Linked DNA regions of Homo sapiens. The protein of the gene in region 1 interacts with the protein of each later gene in a pairwise test. Each region holds a gene or a part of one and is shown on either strand. Other genes may lie near its edges.

Evidence for each region. The genes of interacting proteins can lie anywhere in the genome.
Region 2: the proteins of PICALM (region 1) and NECAB1 interact in a two-hybrid assay, tested with the Homo sapiens proteins (one large-scale study listed by IntAct).

The regions. Positions count from the first base shown.
Region 1 is NC_000011.10:85,958,543-85,961,335, forward strand, and holds part of PICALM (phosphatidylinositol-binding clathrin assembly protein), read right to left. Parts: intron 2,236-2,793; coding exon of another isoform or gene 2,143-2,235; exon of another isoform or gene 2,133-2,142; intron 519-2,132; coding exon 504-518; 3' UTR 1-503. UniProt on the Homo sapiens protein: Cytoplasmic adapter protein that plays a critical role in clathrin-mediated endocytosis which is important in processes such as internalization of cell receptors, synaptic transmission or removal of apoptotic cells.
Region 2 is NC_000008.11:90,952,275-90,955,774, reverse strand, and holds part of NECAB1 (N-terminal EF-hand calcium-binding protein 1), read right to left. Parts: intron 1,832-3,500; exon of another isoform or gene 1,789-1,831; intron 289-1,788; coding exon 263-288; coding exon of another isoform or gene 207-262; 3' UTR 1-206.

The DNA of each region.
Region 1 (2,793 bases):
TTTTTTTTAAAAAAAGAAAAGTTAATTTCAGTTATTGTTTCTGTATTTGTGAGGACTGGAGAAAAGAAAGATAATGCATAATTAGGAATTTTAATTTTGATCCCCCAAAAGAGTCCTGTTGAAATACAGTAAAGGACACAGTTCTTCTCTCCAGGCAGCTTTTCCAAATACAAATTTCACACTTTCCAAATAAGGGCTTTTCTTGATAGGTTACTGATTATGGGTATTAACAGGAGTTGAAAGAATTGAAGGGTTAGTCACCAAAAAGACAGATCTTAGTCTTAAATCATAGCAATTCTTGGCTTTATAAACTGTATTGATACGTTCTCCTATAAACTAGTCCCAATTTCCTTCATGGGCCTTCACTGAGTTACTTGTAGCATTCTAATGGAAGAAGAGAGTTTAAGAGATTTAAGAGACAGCAGTTTGGATTTTGCTGGAAGTAAGGATTTTGCTGCTTGAGCACTTGTCTTTTTGGAGTAATTCCATTTTCTTCCATCAAGTTACATAAACTGTATCTGGAAAAAAAAAGTGGGTATGTTAATTCATTGTATTGTAGGATGTCTTCTCATAAATAAAAATGCTTTGTGGTCTTTACCATTTAACTGGCCCAGAAGTGTTCACAACATGCTTATCACAAACCCTGTTTATAAAACAAAGTCAGTATTATCAACTTATGTGCCAGAAAGCTCAATATTTGACACATATAGGGACTTCCAAATAATGTTTTTTGTTGTTGTTTTTGAGACAGAGTCTTGCTCTGCTGTCTAGGCTGGATTGCAGTGGCATGATCAAAGCTCAATGGCTGGGCACCATAGCTCACACCTGTAATCCCAGCACTCTGGGAGGCTGAGGTGGGCAGATCACCTGAGGTGAGTTCGAGAGTTCGAGACTGGCCTGGCCAATATGGTGAAACCCCGTCTCTACTAAAAATACAAAAATTAGCCAGGCGTGGTGGCGGGCGCCTGTAATCCTAGCTACTCGGGAGGCTGAGGCAGGAGAATGGCTTGAACCCAGGAGGTGGAGGTTGCAGTGAGCTGAGATCGTGCCACTGCACTCCAGCCTGGGAGACAAGAGCGAAACTCCATCTCAAAAAAAAAAAAAAAAAAAAAAAGCTCATTGGAACTCCTGGGCTCAAGCAACCCTCCTGCCTCAGCCTCCTGAATAGCTAGGACTGCAGACAGTCGCCACCACACCTGGGTAATTTTTGGGTGGGGGTAGAGACTAGGGTCTCACCGTATTGCCCAGGCTGATCTTGAACTACTAGCCCCAAGTGATCCTCCCGCATCAGCCTCCCAGGGTGCTGGGATTACAGGCATAAGCAACCACATCCAGGCCAAATACTTAACTGCTAAAAATAGAGGAATAGCATGTGGAGGAGGAAAAGAAAGAAGATCAATGACCTATTTTTTCATGACAAGTTCAGAAAAATCTCTCCATAAGCACAAATACCACAAGCAAAATCTCATTTGGGAAGCAAAATTTGAAATATTATTTCCAAATGATATACAATTAGAGACAATAAAGGGAACAGTAATATTATACTAAGTCTTTTTATTAACATAAATAAGAACCTGAAAGAGCCATAAAAATATTTTTCAATAGGGTACTACTGTTCATTCAAAGATATTTCACTCACAATTTCCCTTAAACTGCCCATCCAAAGATTACTGAAGTAGATGTGCTAATAAACTTGCCAAATCAGAAGACTATAAACTCCCAAAGATCTAGAAGGTATATCTAAACTGGGGGCTAGAGCATCAAGAAGAACAAATTACACTGTCTTCCAGCAAACAGAGGCAGTGTGGATCATATGCAGAATCCTTCTAATCGAAAGGGCTTAAGTATTCACTTGCCCTTAATTAAAAAGCAAACTTTATCCGATCTCATCCATTTACTGTGAGCAGTGGATGAGATTACTTTAAATAATTATGTTACAGATATTTTCCAAAAGTTGTTTTTCCTTATGTCCTATCTTTTCATTCTGCACCTAAAGAATAGAGGAAGAGGAGGAGGAGGAGAGGGAGCCTAGAGTCCTTTAAAGAAATGAAAGAGAAGCGTGAATTGTGTTTAATGTTTGGTAATTGTTTTTAAGTATTTAAGTCCCCATCTCCCAAAACAAGTAGCAATACCTAAAGTGATTTATAAGAAATCCTCCAAAGAGAGCTCTGCAAAGGGGTCCTTTCCTGAAGCTCTGTGAGGACTGTGACTGGAGGGGCTGGATGCTGCCGACAGCTGGGGGAAAAGAAGACAGAGAGAGGGAAAGAAAAAAAGATCTCAGAATGACAGAACATGAAAGCAGAAAATGTATGAAAGAAGAAGTGGTTTTGGTTTTGTCATCTTTAATAAATATAAGGGCAGTCTTTGTAGAAAATGGATTGTTAAGACAAAAGTTTCAGTCATATGTCAAGTTAAAAGGTATGCAATGGCATGTGTTTTTCAGAAAACAAACTCGTGCTTCTGAAGTTTCAAAGGAATAATGTCTTTTACCCAAAAGGTCGATATAAGCTGACCCATGGTTAAGAATTTTAATGTGTGTATGGGGGGTGGTGGGGGGATAGGGGAGGGAATACATAATTGCATTTTTGTTTAAAATTGAGAGAACATGGTTTCCTGTGTCCAGGCTATCTGTCCAAAGCTGTGCAACTCTGACCTCAGTCCGGACCCAACACATCTAGCTGCAATATTCTTTCCTTTCTTTCTTCATAAGGGTCGAAAAGTCCTGTCCTAGGTTCACACACTTTTTACACGAAGTTGTCTCCTGCTCATTTATCTTGACGAACTGCAGCTGAC
Region 2 (3,500 bases), on another chromosome or scaffold:
GTCACTAAAAGGTTTTAGGTGAGTTACAATGTAGCAAAGCATTTAGCATTAAATATTGAGAATATTAGTGAACTTTGAAAATTGAGCTAAAATTCACATGAATTGATAAAGTTATAGAATAAGTTTTGAAAGAGTGCACTTAGTAAATATACCAAACAAAAATATACAGTAGATTAACAACCGCAGATAATTTTCTAATTGACGTTTTAGATAAGAACACCTGTTTTGCACTTGGAACCATAAAGAAAATGTCTAGGAACATCTAGTTGTTCAGGATCCACCACGAAGCTGAAAAGAGAAAAATGTTTTCTAAAATAATGAAAATAACTTATAGGGCAAAGAACATTCAAGGTGCAAATTATTTCTAAAGAGACCATTCCCCTTACCTTTAGTCTGCATAATAACTTATCTTTCTAGTCACCATTTCCTGACTATTTGAGGCAAGATTGAACTCTTCCTATGCACTTGTTATTTGTACCATACCTTTTGGCACTTTGTTGCAGTCTAAAATTTTCTGTTCTATGTGAATAGAACTTGTTTTGGCAACAAGTTTATAAATGCACTGAAGACAGAATCATGCTATTGTTCTTATTAGAATCTACCCAACACTGGCAGTAGTTAGGCCATATATATATATATATATATATATATATATATATATAATTTATATACCCAATATTTATGAAATCCTATATGTAGAAATACCATATATTTATACATATGTACATACATGCACCTGCATTTATATATGTATATACATATATGCATATGTGTACATATACATACATATATGTACACACATAATATATACATATAATATGTATACATGTATGTATACATATAATACATATGCATTTGTATACACATACATATATGCATATGCATACACATAATATACATATATGCATATGTATACATATATTTATAAATATATGCAGCTTATGTATAATATATAATATACATATAAATACATGTGTGATTTATTATACATATATTTATACCTATATGATATTTATAAATACCATATATTTATACACATAGGATCTCATAAATATTGGGTATAAGCAAGTAGGTTATAAATAATATTTTAGTATATCTGTATGTTAAAATTATAAATGTTTATCCCAGTGAATATAGATATCCTGAAAACAAACCAATGGCAAAGATGTATGATTGGTGGAATGCTGTAAGAAACAGATAAATGGAAAGGATTGAAATTTGCTTTCAAAACTGTTCAAGTAATTTGCTGGCAATAGGATCTTTTTTTTTGTATCCTGTTTTCCCATAACCGTAGGTTTTTCTGTTATTACCAATGGACATTCTGCTCCACAGACCAAGTTTATATACTCCTTTTGTCTGGGTGGTTTGGGCTGCCATATTCCAGTATGCTTCATTTGAATGATTTTATACTTGAGAGGTCATTGGAATATATTATAGTGTATATTTTCATATCTGGATGCAATCTGGCTTAGTTGCTTAATTACTTTAGATGTATCTTAGGTAAACCACTTAGTAGTCTTAACCATAAAAAGCAATCTTACCAGAAATCATAATTTGTGAGTAAAATTAGAAATACAAACTTATTCATACTGCATTTTTAAATGTAATATCTGCTTTTTTTCTTTCAGATTTTAATTTTAGGTATAAATATGTGCAGCTATTTATTTATTTATTTATTTATTTATTTATTTATTTATTTATTTATTTTGAGACAGTCTCGTTCTGTCACCCAGGCTGGAGTGCACTGGCACGAACTCAGTTCACTGCAACCTCTGCCTCCCAGGTTCAAGTGAGTCTCCTGCATCAGCCTACCAAGTAGCTGGGATTACAGGTATGCACCACCATGCCTGGCTAATTTTTTGTATTTTTTAGTAAAGAGAGGATTTCACCATATTGGCCACTGGTCTCGATCTCCTGTCCTCAGGTCATCTGCCCACCTTCGCCTCCCAAAGTGCTGGGATTACAGGCGTGAGCCATAGCGCCCAGCTAATTATTTTTATTTTTAATCTTCATAACCATTATAACACAAAATGTACAAAACTGGTTTTTAAAAATAGTGTTAGAAGTTATATGGCCATTAAAACCCATAAATAATATTTATATGCTAGCTTCTGCTTACTGGAATAGGCCTGCTGTCACAGTGATAAAACTTTAAAATAAGGTGGGATGTCCCAATAAATGTCAAAATGTTGTAGGTTTTAAAATTGTGTCAAAAATCAAGCCTAACTTTTCCTCTTGTTCTACGAAATTCCAGTAATCATTGTTGAAATTAAATGTAACATGAAATTAATACAAAATAGGGCAGCAATTAAAAGACATTAAATTGTATTGAGCCTGGATTCACAGAACAAGAATTGATCCAGTTTTATCTGTAGTCAGTTTTTCTTTCTAAATTAGGAAATGCTCTGAGAGAGAAAGAGTAATATATGTGCCAATGACACTAGTAGTGTCTAGAAAATAATTCCAGATAATGATAAAGTTGGGTCAGAAAACTATCAGATTAGTCCACATTTTCAATTCTTGCTATAGCATTTTCCCCCTCACTGATAATTCAGTAGCCTCCTGTTCTATCCTCTTTTCCTACTCTATTTTTGATCAGGTTGTTTCTGTCCTGGAAAGACTCAAGACACTAATAAGAACAAGCTTTGTTCCTTTCTTTCCACATTGGTTTGGGAGAGATGGAAATGGGTGTGATGACAGACACAAAAATTACAAGTGTCAGGACTTCGTGGAAATTTTGACCGAAGACCAATATATTTATGATGATGCCAAAGTCCTATTCATTCCTTCATTTAGGAAATAATTTCTTCTTGCCATATACTGTACTATAGTAATACTGTAATAGGGTAGGGAATGTGAAGATAAATAAAATGTGGATCTCACTTTCCTGCATTCTATGTACAAAGCTTGCAGCAGTCATATTTACAGAAGTTGTATTCTAAGATTTTTCTCCCTATTTTATTTTATTTTATTTTAATTTTATTATTATTGTTTTTTGACATGGAGTCTCGCTCTGTCGCCCAGTCTGGAGTGCAGTGGTGCGATCTTGGCTCACTGCAACCCTCCGCCTCCTGGGTTCAAGCAATTCTCCTGCCTCAGCCTCCTGAGCAGCTAGGATTACAGGCATGCCCCACCATGCCCAGCTACTTTTTGTATTTTTAGTAGAGGTGGGGTTTCACCATGTTGGTCAGGCTGGTTTCGAGCTCCTGGCCTTGTGATCCGCCCACCTCAGCCTCCCAAAGTGCTGGGATTACAGGCGTGAGCCACCGCGCCCAGCCTTCCTCCCATTTATAACATCATAACACTATACATCCCCCACTCATCCCCAGGAGCACTGTATCTTTGCATTTTACTCTTTTGGTTTCCTTGATACTCCACTGCTTAAAGAAAGGCATCTCCCCAAGCTTCTCTTAGATATTTTGTTCTTACCTACATACTTTCTTACCAATCCCAGGCTTCAACAATCATCTTGCTGTGGTTAACTCCTGAAAATTACATCT